2 separate regions of the Homo sapiens genome follow, and region 1 is linked to region 2. The links come from fine-mapping of genetic effects on gene expression. Tissue or cell type: CD8 T cells. Region 2 holds a variant in brackets; the other region holds the start of a gene. All regions are shown on one strand. Distances are from middle to middle.

Region 1 (6,253 bases), 510 kb after region 2:
GTGGTGGTACACTCTTGTAATCCCAGCTACTTGGGAGGCTGAGGCATGAGAATCGCTTGAACCTGGGAGTTGGAGGTTGCAGTGAACCGAGATTGTGCCACTGCACTCCAGCCTCAGTGACACAGTGAGACTCCATCTCAGGAAAAAAAAATAATATTAATAAGGAAGTCAAGGAAAGAGAGATCAGGTTACCAGAAGGAATGACTCTGTATGTTTATGTATACACTGAAATCATCAAGTGTTCTGTGATGACAGAGAGTGAGAAAAAAAGGTCTCATCTGTAAGGAGTAAGAAGTTACCCAGAAGTGTACAGATAATTGCAATAAGGGTATGTAGTAGGTGACAGAATTTGAGGATATGAGCTTTAAAGAAGTTGAAAATATTTAAAAATAGGAAAGACATATGTTCTAAAAAAGGCAATAAGATAAAAACCATGGCACCTCCAGGTCCAATGGGGTCTAGGGTATGTTAGAAGAAACAGCCTCTAATTTAGAGGGCTCTTGGAAGAGCAATGTCCCCAGGTGACCCCTGAGTTCCAGTAGGAAAAGAAGGGAAAGGGAATAGTTACAAAGGAGATATGGGGAATTTTGTGAGTAACTGATAGTGAATTCCATAGGGTGAGGGGACTTGAGCAACTGAGGAAAGTTGAGAGCATGAATAGGGTTGGGGAACTTACATATGTTATGAGAGTCCAGACAAAAATGCTTCAAGGCCTGGAGTAAAGAGGCCTAAACTGTACGGTTGGATTATTGTCCTAATAGTCTCTACTATGGGCTGAATTATCTGTCCCTAAGATTCACATGTTGAAGCCCTAGCCTCCAGTAATTCAGAGGGACTGCACTGCAGACAGGGTCTTTAAGGAAGACATTTGGGTTAGCCCTAATCCAATCTGCAAACTAAAAAGAGGGATTTCAGAAGAAACCAAATGTTCTGACACCTTGCTCTTGGACTTCTAGCCTCCAGAACTGTGAAAAACATATATAATAATTTCTGTTATTTAAGCCATTCAGTCTGTGGTATTTTGTTATGGCAACCTTAGAATATTCATACAGTCTTCTTGGTGAAAGTGAATAACAGTTCTAATTGCATCCTCATTTTTGGAACTGTTCTCTTAGGTATATTATGCTGATGAGCTAGGAAGCACTGGGGGCCAAGGAGACAGATAATTCTTTCCAGAAGTATAGTTCTGTGGGTCCCCTTTCCTGTTTTGCCAAGGTCCAGTGTAATTTATTCATTTGCCTATATTGTTTTTTTAACTTACTTTTAATTTGTGATTCTTACTGATAATAAAATTGGATAACTATATTTATTTATTTATGCAACAAATATTTATTGAGTGCCTATTATGTGCCAAGCACTTTTCTAGATACGCGGATATTAGGGAATCAAACAGATAAACCCCTGCCCTCACAGAGCTTACCTTCTAGTAAGGTAAGCTCTAACTGGGGGATGCTTTTGTGGAATTTGGTAGTTTTCAAACTGGAGTTTTCATTTCTTATGACCAAAGTCTCCCTACTCCAATCCAAGCATTTTATTGTTACCAAATTCACTTTATAAAAGTAGAAAATGTATCATGTAATATCCACCTAGAAAAAAAAATCAATTGATGCCTCCATATTGCCTTATAAATAAAATCCTTATTTCTCTCTATGGCATTCAAGTTGTGATTTGATGCTGAATTACTTGTTTGGCATCTGCCCCAAATTAGGGATCTGTATCCATCCTGAGAAGCCTTATGCTTTCTCTTTTATTGCAAAATGGACATTTCAGGACACCAAAAGATGTAAACTTGTTACAGAAATTCACCATATGTTCATTCCCTATAAATACTCAAAAGATACTAGCTCTTCCCCGTGTTACTGTCAGTCCTTTGCTAGAAGTTGCCTACTCTGTAATGCTGAGCTCTAATTGTTTGCTCAGCTTGGGGACCTATACAGAACAGGTGTGGAGTAGGAGAAGGAAAGCCCAACTATGGGGTGGATTTCCAGGTCATCTGCTCTAGTACCTGAAAAGGGCTCCTGGTTTTCATTACTTTTTCTGCTGAAAGCAGCCGATTCTCTAAACAATAGTTGTGGCTATTATATATGTTTCCATTTCTTCTCTAGGCCAGAAATGTGGATATTTTTATGCATATCTTACTGTAAGCACATCATATTTTAAGCATATCTTACTTTTGGCATATCTTACTGTAACAGTCACAGTCTAGGTAGGAAACAGGAGGTGCACTGTAAGTGATTTTACTGAAAAGAATGTAATGAAGAGACAATTTCAGAGGTATTAACTGGGTTAAGAGAACTAGGGGAGGCCGGGCGTGGTGGCTCGTGCCTGTAATCCCAGCACTTTGGGAGGCCGAGGTGGGCGGATCACTTGAGGCCAGGAGTTCCAGACCAGCCTGGCCAACATGCCAAAACCCTGCCTCTACTAAAAATACAAAAGATTAGCCAGGCGTTGTGGTGCACACCTGTAATCCCAGCTACTCGGGAGGCTGAGGCACGAGAATCACTGGAACCTGGGAGGCAGAAGTTGCAGTGAGCCAAAAGGAACTAGGGGAAGCCATCACACTCTAGGCCTGAAGGGACACTGGAAACAAATTGTTTTATTAGAGACCCATGAGAGCTGAGGCCATGGAAAAGAGGCCTCTACACAGGCCCTGTAGTCATAGAGGGACAGGACTGTGGCCAAAATTTTGGGTTAAAGGAAAGAAGAATACTCTGATATTTCTCTCCTCCCTTCTTTTGATTTTCTGCCAGTGCTTCCCATTGGTCAATCACAACAGGAAGCCACAGGTCAAAGGGGCCTAGTGATTTATCTGTAGGCATCCAAAGGCACGGCTTGGTAGAGAAGTAGAAACGATAGATTTGGGGAGGGAAACAGAAAATACTGCTGTTATAAATATTCTCTAGACCACAGGAAGTTAAAAAAAATTACTAGATTACAGGACAATTAAAAAATTCCCATAAATCTACCTTTCTAATACCACTTCCTTCTTATTCCCACATTTAACCTGCTGAGTGTTATCTCTGCCTAGCACTGGGGTGGGTAAACTTTTCCTGTAAAGCATATTTTAGACTTTGAGGCTTAAGAGGCAAGGTCGAAAATATTATGTCCTATTTATGTAGTGATTTGAAATGTAATTATTTGAACATATAAAAAACAGTCATTCAAATTCAGTGGCGTAGATTTGGCCTGTGGGCTATACTTTGCTACCCTCTGGCCTTGAAAGTCTTCTAAATTTTTGCTAGCCTAAAATCCACCTACTTTTCAATGTCAAGTTCAAATAAAACCTCCCCTACGTGGCCTCTCATACTGGGACTCTGAGCTGTGAGTGACAGAAAATCAACTATTACTAGCTTAAGCAAAACTGAGGATAAGTTGAGAGTTTGCGGGTTGTAGATCCCAGAATCCAGGAGTTGCTGAAATGCCAGCTGCTCTGGGGATATCCTGCTTTGCTACTGTGGTAACATCAGAACATGCCCTCTTCATCTCCCTTTCTCTTCTCTTTGCTTCTGTCTTCAGTTTGGCCTCATCATCTCCTAGAGGCAGATCTTTTCCACAAGAAACAGAATATGTAACTCTTTATGTACCCAGGAAAGTATTCTGTTTGACCTGTCTTGGTCACCCAGCCACCCTTCGATGAACCCATGTCGGTGGAGGAAGGGGGAAGAGTGATGGGGTAGTCTCGAGGTTCAGACATGGCACACGTTTGGGAGAGAAGCTCACCTCTGAGGAGTGGGGAAAGAGGCAGTTTCCCAAAAGGAGGATGCATTCTGTTGCCAGGAGATGAAACAGGAGAGGTTGTCTATTTTAGAGAGATAGAAATGTCACAATTACAATCCAATGTGTGCAGCGCTATAACAGAGATAAGTCTGACGCCTCGTTATCACCCACAGTACCTAACATCACACTTGGTAGACACATTCATGCGATTTTGATGAATGAATGACTCAGTTCTCCCAGCTGATTGTGTACACACTCTACTCCAAACTGGCCCAGAATTTTATCAGCTGCTCTTCATTCTGTACGTTGTATTTGGGGTTTTTATGGCCATCTACCATCTCTCCTCTAATTCCGGGTGCAAAAAGAGTGTATGAGAGAGAGGCAAGCATGCAGTAAACATCCTGTGTTAATCTCAATCCCAGAACCAGACCACAGAATGCTGACTACACCGCTCACGGGAAAGACTATGTTTTAGGTGACCCGTGTGGCCTTTTTGTTGAGGCCTTTAGGATACAAGGCCCCCACCTAAAGACGCGACCCTCCCGTAGGAGGGGGGCAGGGCCCGGGGGCGGGAGCACAGCGGGGCCCCAGCCTCAGGCGGCGCGTCACTGAGCACAAAGGAGACAACAGCGAGGCGGCAGCGGGCGCTGATCTTCGCTCGCCAGCCACTCGCAATTGCGGTTACAGACCTGCAGCTCCCCCTCCCCCAGCCGGCCCGCCCGCCTTTCTGTCTCCTCTCTCCCTCCGTACTGGACGGCCCCGGTCCATTTCCGGGCTCCGGATATTTGGTATCGATTGGGGCCGGGGACGCGGAGCAGGTGGCCGCGGCGGGGCAGCTGGGCCGCCAGCTTGGTGCCTCGGGGACCGTCTCCCGCTGCTTTGGTCACCAGCCCCTGCCCGCCCGACCCGCTCCGTTCTCCGGCCTGCGAGCCCTGCCGGCCGGACTTTGCGCCGCGTCCGGCGCTGCTGCTGCGCTCGGGGCCCCGCTCGGCGCCGGCGGTGACCGGGAAGCCCGCGTTAAAGGGGCAACCGGGACCCTGGCCCGGTATGGCTGAAGTCAGCATCGACCAGTCCAAGCTGCCTGGAGTCAAGGAAGGTAAGGGCCCCGGAGGGAGAGCGCGCGGGACCCTCCCCTCTCCCAGCCCGAGGTTCTCTCAGGTCAGGGGCGTTGCCATTTCGGCTCCCGCGGCCCTCGCCCGGTGCCCGCCCTGCGTTGGCCTTGCCCGGACGTGAAAGGAATTGAATTCAGGTTCTAGTGTGGGACGTTGGGCAAGTCTCCGACGTTCCAAGCCCGTTTTTTCTCAAGGGGGTGGTTGGGGGGGGGGGGGGCTAGCAGCAGCCCCAGCAAGTAGGTGGCTGTGCCCGTGTTCTCGTGCATCGCAAAGCCTCAGTGGACGCTGAGAGCCGGGTGAATCTGACTTACTCCGCTTCTAAAAAATCGAGGCCCAGCCTGGCTGGCTTGAAGGCTGGGAAGTGGAGAGGGGTTGACATTCAGTTCCGTGTGGAGCCTTTGTTTTGAAACATGACTCTTTCCCTCCTTCTCTCCCTACTTTTCCTAGGCCGGCGTCTGGCTGGCTGACTTTCCCACCTTCCTCAAGGTTTAAAAGTTTAGTCTTGGCTGTGTTCTGCGCGGGCGGGAAGCCACTATAAGCATTTTCTTACAAACAAAACACACACACACACACACACACACACACACACAATAGTGAGCGAGGGGAACAGGGGACTGATGGCCTTGTCATTGCTTTTTGTACCAATGTCCAGGAAAGTAGAGATTAGTACTGACCTGGCTTTAGCTGACAGCAAGTAGCCTTTTGACTTCCCTTCTCTTGTTTTTCCACTAGCTGCCTCAGGACCTAGCTTTTTTTTGCTGAGATCTTAGGTGCTGGATCGCCTTATGCCTTGAGTTATCTTTGTTTATTCTTTGGTCCTAGGAAGCATAGACGTTCCAGAGTGCTGACGCAGACCCCTAAGTTCCAAGGGCTTTGCAAAATCGGCTTCTGTTGTGAATGTCATTTGTATCGATTGAATACTGTAGCCTGAGGCGTCTTGGAGATGTGGAATTGAAAATAGTTTTTGCTTTCTTGGAACCGCTTGTTTTATTGCCAACTTAATTTGACTCCGTTGGTCTTGTGTGTGCTCAGGCCAGCCCAAAAATCTCAGGAAAATGAGGGACTGCTTGATTGCTTTCTCAGAGTTTCAAGCACTAGGAGACTAGTGACTAGTGGTCACTGATTTTATGTAGAATTTCTGATGGGCCTAGTTCTGTCTTACTGTTCCGGAAGGGTGTTAAAGCTTAGGCGTGAGATTTTAGCGTTAATACTTTTCTACCTTTCCGTCCCTGGTATGGCTTTGATGAAGACTTAGGGCTTTCACCTGTAGAAAACAGTTTTCACTCTGCTGTCAAGACTAAGGAGGCTGAGCGATAGGAAAGGCGGATCCATACTTTTGAGAGTTCTTATCTTAGAGATTGTCTGGTTATCCTTTACTTTTGGATATGAGGGTTTTTTGTGTGGGTATGTGTTGGGTTTGTCTC
Region 2 (8,524 bases):
AAATCCATTATGTCTGTTACTGTGTGTTTTACTTACAGCATTTCCATTTTATTCTTTCTTTTGTTTTCATCTATCTGCTGAAATTACACATCTGATTGTGCATAGTGCAAACCTTTCTATTACAGTCTTCAATAGATTAATTATAGTTATTTTAATTTTTCTGTCTGATAACAAAATCTGTGTAACATTTGAGTTTGGTTTTGTTGATTGCTTTGCTTTGTAACAGTGTGTTGCTCTTTCTTGTTTATTTGTACATCTCTTATTTTTGTTTTTAGGCTAGACATCTTTTGCAGAGCAGTAGAGACTGAATTAAATTGTTTTTGTGCTTGGAAATGGGCATGGCTCTCCACCTTTTCAGCTTTTGATTACTCAACCTAGTGAGAAGTAGATTTGCTTTTGGATTTTTCAGTTGTTATGGCTACTCTTAGTGCAGTACAGGCTTTAAATTCCTCTAGTGTTACTTTTCATTTAGAATGGAGATGAGTTTTCCAGAGGGTTTTCTTAATATCTATTCTACTCTGAGCTTTGTCTTTTTTTTTTTTTTTGGTCCTGTACTTCAGAGAATGCCTTCATTCATGCTGTTTCCCTCCCTCAATAGTAGACAGCAGTTACTTGTTATCCAACTCTTATTAGCCTGGTTCAGAGGAGGTTTGAAAATATTCTCTGTTTTTAATTTCCCTTAGTTTTAGATAGGCACTGTGTTCCTGGGTCTTATTAGAGGTTCTATCTTCTCAGTGGTTGTACTGCATTATAAATCATAAGTTTGACCTCACTAAGTATTTATGACCTTCTCTGATTAAGAAATAGATTTATTTATTGTGCCGTTATCCAGCTACAACAAGTTTCCACCAATGTCTTAAGCTTAACAGAATATATTATCTTTCTATCAGTGGTGCAAGTATTTTGTTCTATAAGAGATTTAGAGGAGAAGAATCTACGTGGGCTTTGTGCTTTCCATGCAACAGCTGCAATCACCCTTCCCCATATCTGCATCCACCCTTCCCCATATCTGCATCGTATGGAATGATTGATTGCTCATATTCCTTGCCCTACTCCAATCTTTCTTGCTGAGCACCCACCTAGGTCTGTGAACAAGAGCCTGTGAGTCAGTATTAAATTTCTTCACAGGTTTTTTTTGTGTTTTGCTACCTCACACTCAGCCTTTGGCAAATTTATGTTAACGAATTTAGCCAAATTTTTCTCACTATGGCCAGGAAGATTCTGCCTCAGGTGATCTCTGTTGCTGCTTACCTTTTCTTATATTTTTGGTTAGTTGTTTGTCCCAACACATGAACTGTCTGATGCGTTTAAATAAAGTTGGGAATTTGAAAATTGGCCACTTTTTGCTGTTCTTGTGAGTGTAGGAGTAATACCCTTTTAAGCTCTTTACTTCCTTAGCAGAAGCTGGGATTTTTATATAGTTATTTAAAGTGCACATGCAGCATCTATCAACATTGATGATAAACTGGGTCATAAAACAAATCTTACTGAATTTGAAAAGATTGAAATCATATAGAATATGTTCTTTGATCAAAACAGAACTAAGTTATGAAGTAATAGTAACAAAATATCTATAAAAGCACCCAATACTTAGAAATTTAACAACAAAACAACTCACCACCACCAACAATAAAAACACACACAAATAAATGAAATAATAATTTAAACCAAACCATGATAAAAATTTAACACATCGATATTTATGAGGTGCACATAAAGAATGTCAAAGGAAAACTTATAGCATTAAATACTTAGAAAGTAAAAAGTATTAAGGTCATAAAATAAGGTTGCAACTTGGTTATATAAAAACAAGAGCAAACTTACCTGCTTGATCCTGCTGGTAACAAAATAAAATAATTTAAAAAAATAAAATTTAAAAAGAGTAAAAGAACACCAATCAATAAGGAAAAAGGCAGATTTTTTGAAAATATTAATAATATTGATAAATATCTAGAGGGACTGCTCAAGGGGAAAAAAGAAAAAATATTTACTACTAATAAAGAAATGAAAATAAGACATAACTACAGATCTTATAGACGTCGAAAATATAAAAATTTATGAACATGTTTACATGTATAAATTTTACAACTTGGAAACAATGAACAAATTTTCTGAAAAACACAATTTACCCAATCTGACATTATTAGTTTTCTAATTCTGCATTAAAAAATATCCACAAGTGCAGAGGCTTAGAATGAGATTGTCTAACATGTCTGTAGATCACCAGTCCAGGCATACCGCAGCTAGGTTCTCTGCTCATGGTATCACAAGGCGGAAACCAAGGTGTTATCTAGCCGGTGTTCTTATCTGATGCTCAGAGTCCTCTTCCAATTCTTCCAGTTCTGGTAGAATTGAGGATATTAGGTCCTTGAGGTCATTCGGTACTTCCTGAATCTCTACAACATGAAAATTTTCATTTTTTAAATCAACAGGAGAATCTCTCTTTTCAACAAGAGGCAGAATCCCTGTTTTAAGTGCTCTCTGATTAGGCCAGGTCTATCTGCAAGAATCCTGCTTTTGATGAACTCACAGTCATCTGCTTAATTACATAATCATATGATAAAATGCCATCATATGGGATTTTACAAGTCCTGGTATATTCTCTTTGAAAGTGGACTGGGCATAATAAGGTGTTATGAGTAGAAAAGAAAAAGGCAGCTCACGCTAATAATCCCAGCACTTTGAGAAGCCGAGGCTGGTGGATCAGTTGACGTCAGGAATTCAAGACCGTATGGCCAACATGGGGAAACCCCATCTCTACTAAAATAAATAAACAAATATATATTTTTTAATTTGACTACTCATAACACAAGTTCATCCCACATTGAAGGAGAATATACCAGGCATGCACATTAGAAGGAAGGAAACTTGAAGGCTATCTCAGAATTCTTCCTAGCATACTGACCAATAAAAGAATCAAATCTGAATATTTCTGTATTTATTAAATAAATTAAATGCAGAGTTTTTAAAAATTCTATTAATATATTTTAAGCTTAGCCTTACTGGTTGCTATACAAAATATTTAGGAAGAATTAAACTAGTCTTACCTAACTCATTCAGAAGATAAGAAAGAGGGAACAAGTCTAGACTTACTTTATGAAGTTGGAGTAATCTAGATCGAAACTCTACTAAGTACAAAACGAGAAAAAAATTAGACCAATCCTCCTCATGAACATAGACATAAAATTAATCAACAAATTATTAGCAGGTCAAATTCAACAATATCTGAAAGAGACAATACACAATGATCAAGTAGATTTTATCCGAGCAATACAAGTTTGACTTAACATTAAAAATTAGCCAATATAACACAACTTAATGAGCAGTAGAAAGTAACATAATTATCTCATGATGTGCAGAAAAATATTTCAACAAAATTCACATCTTTTCATGGCAGAAATGACCAAGAAATAAGAAATAGAAAGCAGTTTCCTCAATCTAATAAACAGCATCATAACAAAATGAAACTCACATCGTGCATGCATCATATGTAATGGTGAAATGTAGAAATGTTCCCCACTAAATTCAAGTAAAAGAAAAGGATGTCTTTTAAATAGAAGATGTCACAACCTCTGTTTAACTTTTTTCTAGGACTCCTAGGCAGTACAATGAGTCAATAAAAATAAATAAAAGTCATAAATAAATCAAAGTGAGATTTAGTTTAAACAAAACCACCCCAAGTCCTGTTATAGTCAAACTATCAAAAATTAGACAAAGAGTATTCTGAAAGCAGCAAGAGAATGAAGCAAATTTCATATAAGGGAATTCCAATATGACTAACAGCTGAATTCTCAGCAGAAATCTTACAAGCTAGGTGAAAGGGAGATAACACTCAAAATTCTGAAGGAAAAAACTCCCAACAAATAATACTGTACTTGGCAAAACTGTTCTTCAGCAATAAAAGAGAGAAAAAGTTCCAAGACAAAGATGTAGAGAGTATCAACAGCAGGCCTTTTTATAAGAAATGCTGAGGGGAGTTATTCAAGCTGAAAGAAAAGGACACTACAGGTATACCCACAAAATATTGTGGGTTCAGTTTCAGACCACCACAATAAAAGCAAATATTGTAATAAAGTGAGTCACACTGTTCTTTTTTTTTGTTTTTTCAGTGCATATAACAATACTTTTACACTATACTGTAGTCTATTAAGTGTGCAACAGCATTATGTCTATAAGAATAATATGCATATCTTAATTTAAACATAGTTGATCATTTGAGCCCAGGAGTTCTGGGCTGTATTATGCTATGCTGGTTGGGTGTCCACACTAAGTTTAGCATCAATATGGTGATTTCACAAAGCAGAGGACCACCAGGTTGCTTAAGGATGGTTGAGCCAACCCAGGTCAGAAATGCAACAGGATAAAACTTTCATGCTGATTAATATTAGGTCCAGAGATAGCCAGCCCAGAGATTCTGGACAGGCCATCTGATATGGTACTAAGCAGAATTCCTGCTGGAGTCTTTGGGCTGGCTGGCCTGGAGCCTGGGTTAGCAAGTAGGTGAGCCTGAAGCCTGGTTACACTTGGGTGAATGTGTTGATTTGGTCTGCTAGGGTAGGCCTGGAGTCTGTATTCCTAGATCCTCCAGAGCTTCCCTGGTTCTGGGGCAAGACTGAAGCCTGCTGCCACTACAGTTGGTCTAATTATGATCTGAACCTGAACCCCAAGGTTGCTAAGTTGAGTTGGTGAAGGGGCAATCCTGGAAATGCTATGGCAGGTCTAGCATTGTAG[C/T]GGGTCCACTAATAGCCTGTGAGTAGCCACTGCACTCTAGCTTGAGCACCACAGTGAAACCCCATCTCTTAAAAAAAAAGAGAAGGAACTATAAAGGATCATAAAGGTCTACAACTGCCTATTGAAAAACATAGGGAATAGGGGGCACCGATCCACTGCACAGTCAAAAATCTATATTTAACTTTTGGCATCCCAAAAACTTAACTACTGATAGCCTATAGCCTACTGTTGATGAGGCACCTTACCAATAGTGTAAACAGTTGATCAGCATGTATTTTATGTGCTATATGTATTATATATTGTATTCTTACAATAAAGTAAGCTATAGAAAAGAAAATATTATTAAGAAAATCATAAGGAGGGTAAAATATATTTACTATTCATTAAGAGGAAGTGTGTCATCATGGAGGTATTTTCCTCTTGTCTTCATGTTGAGTAGGCTGAGGAGGAGAAGGCAAAAAAGAGGTTAATCTTCCTGTCTCAGGGGTGGCAGAGGCAGAAGAGATGGATGAGGTGGAATGAAAGGCAGGCACACTTGGTGTAATATTTATTTTTTAAAGATCCATGTATAAGTGGATCCCCACAGTTCAAACCCATGTTGTTTGAGGGTCAACTGTATTATAAATAATTATATGCTAACAAATTGAATAACATAAAAGAAATGGATAAATCCCCAGATAAATGCAACCTGCCAAGATAAAATCACAAAGAGGTAGACAATCTGAACAGGCCAATAATAAGTAAGGAGATTGAATCAGTAATCAATAGTCTTCAATCAAAGAAAAGCCCAGTACCTGATTGCTTCACTTCTGAATTCCCGCCCCCACCAACTTAAAGAATAATGAATAATGAATACCGATTCTTCTCAAACTCAAAATGGAAGTGCAGAGGAAACTTCTGAACTCATTTTACAAGGCTAGCGTTATCCTGATAGGAGAACCAGTAAAGGACATGACAAAAAAAGAAAACTATTAAATAGTAGACAGTATGCCTAATTAGAGGAGCAAGACTCCTCAAGAAAATATTAGGAAACCAAATTCAACACTGTCCTTCGAACAGAAAAAGAAAAAATATACTTCTCCTTTGTTGCCTTTTTCCATGTTGCTCTCCCCTTTTCTTTATGGTTTTGTGACAACAAGTTATGTCTTAAGTTTCTGTGCATGTGGAATAAAAAGACGCTCACCTAGGATTTAGGAGACCTGTATTCTCTCATCCCCACTTCCTTTCTGCGTAATGATGGTCTTCCCTTTTTTAAAGAGGGAATCTGACCAGACAGAGATATATTCTCACATAATCCTTTTCTACTGTAATTGGTTTCCAATTCAGGCTGCGTTGTTAGTATATCAGGGTTTAGCATACAGGATGTCACCCACATACTGTGGGGTCATATATACTGCTTGAATATATATAAAATAAGCAAAAACAAAAATGAAATCAAATGGATGATTTCTGTGATGATAAATGTACCAGTTTAACTTTAGATGCCATCATGTCATTATATATTTCCCTATCATTCATGTGCAGGTAATATTTTTAATCTATGAGTAATCTATGAATCTATGTAATATTTTTAATCTATAGGTGTTTGACATATTCAATAAGCTTGGTAAAGCAAACAGACTTAGAAGTATATAATCCTAAGGCATGTTTCATATTAGCAGTAACAAAAAAACAGGGCCAAATGTGGTGGCTCATGCCTGTTAGTCTAGCATTTTGGGAGGCCGAAGCAGAAGGAGTGCTGTGCCCAGGTGTTCAAGACCAGTCTGGATAACATAGCGAGACTCTGCCTCTACAAAAAACTAAAAAATGTATATAGCAGAATGTGGTGGCACATGCCTGGAGTTTCAACTACTCAGGAAATCCCTTGAGCCAGAGAGGATGAGGCTGTACTGAACTGTGATTGTGCCACTGAAATCCAGCTTTTGTGACAGAGCAAGACCCTGTCAAAAACAAACAGACAAAACAAAACAAAACAGAAAAAGAGGCTTGGAGCGGTAGGCAACATTAAAAGTAAAAATTAGAAAGTGAATCAAATATGAATCAAATATGGCATTACAATAATGAGGGAAAAAATCGAAAAATCAATTTTCCACATCAAAGCAAGCATAGGGTGTAAAAATACTTTCAGTCCCAGCATTCTAAACTTAGCTGCTTCCTGAGGTCTACTACAGCTCTCCCCTTCTGTATTTCCAATCTTCTTTTCCGCATATTCACTTTCCTTTTCTATCAAGTCATGTTTGTGGGTTACTAGAAGAGTCTGGGTGATTCAGCCTATGGAGAGAAGTTAGAGTGCGGATCCTACAGTCAGATTTTCTGAATTCATATATTGAATCCACCCTTTCCTAACTGTGAACTCTTGGGCAATTCACTTGCCTCTCTGGGCCCTACTTTCTCATCTGTAAAAGGGCAGTATAGTAGTGATGACTTCATTGTGTGATTGTGCAATTACATTCATTAATATATGGTAAGCTTTTGGACCCATGACTCACCTATGGTAAAACAGTCAATCCAGAGTTGCTATTACTATTTTAGTTCAATTTGTAACTGCAAAAGATAGATATTTTATGTAGTTTTGTCTACTTCTCTTCCTTCCTTTCCTTTTTTCCCCTTTCCTTTTCTTTTTTCCACTTTCCCTTCCTTTCCTCTCCTCTTTCCTCTTTCTCCTTCCTTCCTTCCATCCTTCCTCCCTTCCTTCCTTCCTTCCTTCCTTCCTTCCTTCCTTCCTTCCTTCTCTTTTCCTTGTTTCTTCGTCACCTCTATCTGTACCACCTTATGGTCTTACGTGTGTCTTAGGAGACCTTCACTTAGTTACCACACGCTTTGGGTACATCCTTCTTGGTCAAGAAGGCCAGGTACCAGTCAGCTTGCTGAGCCTCTCTAGTGTCCAGGCTATGCTCATTGTAAGCTGCTTCAAGCTGCAGAGAGTGCCAGACACAGATTTCTTTAATCCTACCATCAGTAGGTCTAAATTCATTGCAACTAATACAATACTTGTTTCTCTAACCATGCCAACATTTTCTTGACATCGTGTATGACCTCCTGTTATTTCTCAACAAAAGCTGGCAAGCACAACCTGGCTGGGGAAGTAAAACAGCCCAGCGGGCCACAAACTGCTGCTGAGTGCATCCATGCTTAAATGAACAGCACATTCCAAAGAGATCCAGAGAAGCTCAACTCAGAAGAAAAAATAAAAAGAATGCAAAATCCCTTACAGGAGAGAGTAATCCTCTAGGCCACTAGACTTCCATATTTATATTTCCTACATTGAAAACCAGAGTGACGTCTACTAAAAAATCCTTGACCATTCCTATTGTACTACCATGCTTTGAAATGTCATTCTCACCTTTCCCCATCAGAATTTACCCTCACAAAAAGAATCACAAATGTCCTCTTGATGGAACAAGTCTCTAAAATCTTTGAAGTCTCTGCCAGCAACACCAAAAGAGGAAGCAGCCTGCCATATGTGTGAGTAAGTTTAGTTACAGCTCAGCTTGGGCTGAAATCGCACTGGGAAGACTGCTACATAGGATCAGGTTGGTGCAAAATTAATTGCGATTTTTGCAATTAAAAGTAATGTGTGAGGAAAGGTGGAGTTTGTTTAATTTCAAACACTTTAACTTTTCCTTTATGATTGCCGTGAAAACTTGGTATTTTAAACCCATTTTTCCATTCTATATCAAACTTTTCTATGAGCACAAGGTGAGGTTTTTGTTTGCTTCTAAAATATCAGATTTTCCTTGAATTCTTCTCTGACAGAATGGTGCAAGGAATATTAATGGAAAGAAAGTCCATT

What was found. PIP is the estimated chance that this variant, and not a neighbour inherited with it, causes the effect. A credible set is the group of variants that fine-mapping cannot tell apart.
Region 1: CCDC50 starts here. The variant in region 2 is the best candidate, but not a certain one, in a credible set for the expression of CCDC50 in CD8 T cells (Kasela 2017, PIP 0.73).

Annotation. Positions count from the first base shown.
Region 1 is chr3:191,324,911-191,331,163 of GRCh38, forward strand. It overlaps CCDC50 (coiled-coil domain containing 50), which reads left to right and starts at 4,484. Exons shown (of 12, transcript NM_178335.3): 1 at 4,484-4,813. The coding sequence starts at 4,765. It overlaps UTS2B (urotensin 2B), which reads right to left and starts at 5,616. Exons shown (of 9, transcript NM_198152.5): 1 at 5,504-5,616; 2 at 3,721-3,799. RefSeq lists enhancers at 4,051-4,652, 4,653-5,253 and silencers at 4,180-4,259, 4,360-4,639.
Region 2 is chr3:190,818,418-190,826,941 of GRCh38, forward strand. No RefSeq gene overlaps it. Among named protein-coding and RNA genes, the nearest start is that of GMNC, 40 kb to the right of the region's middle. The variant C/T (reference allele first, on the strand shown) is at 4,732.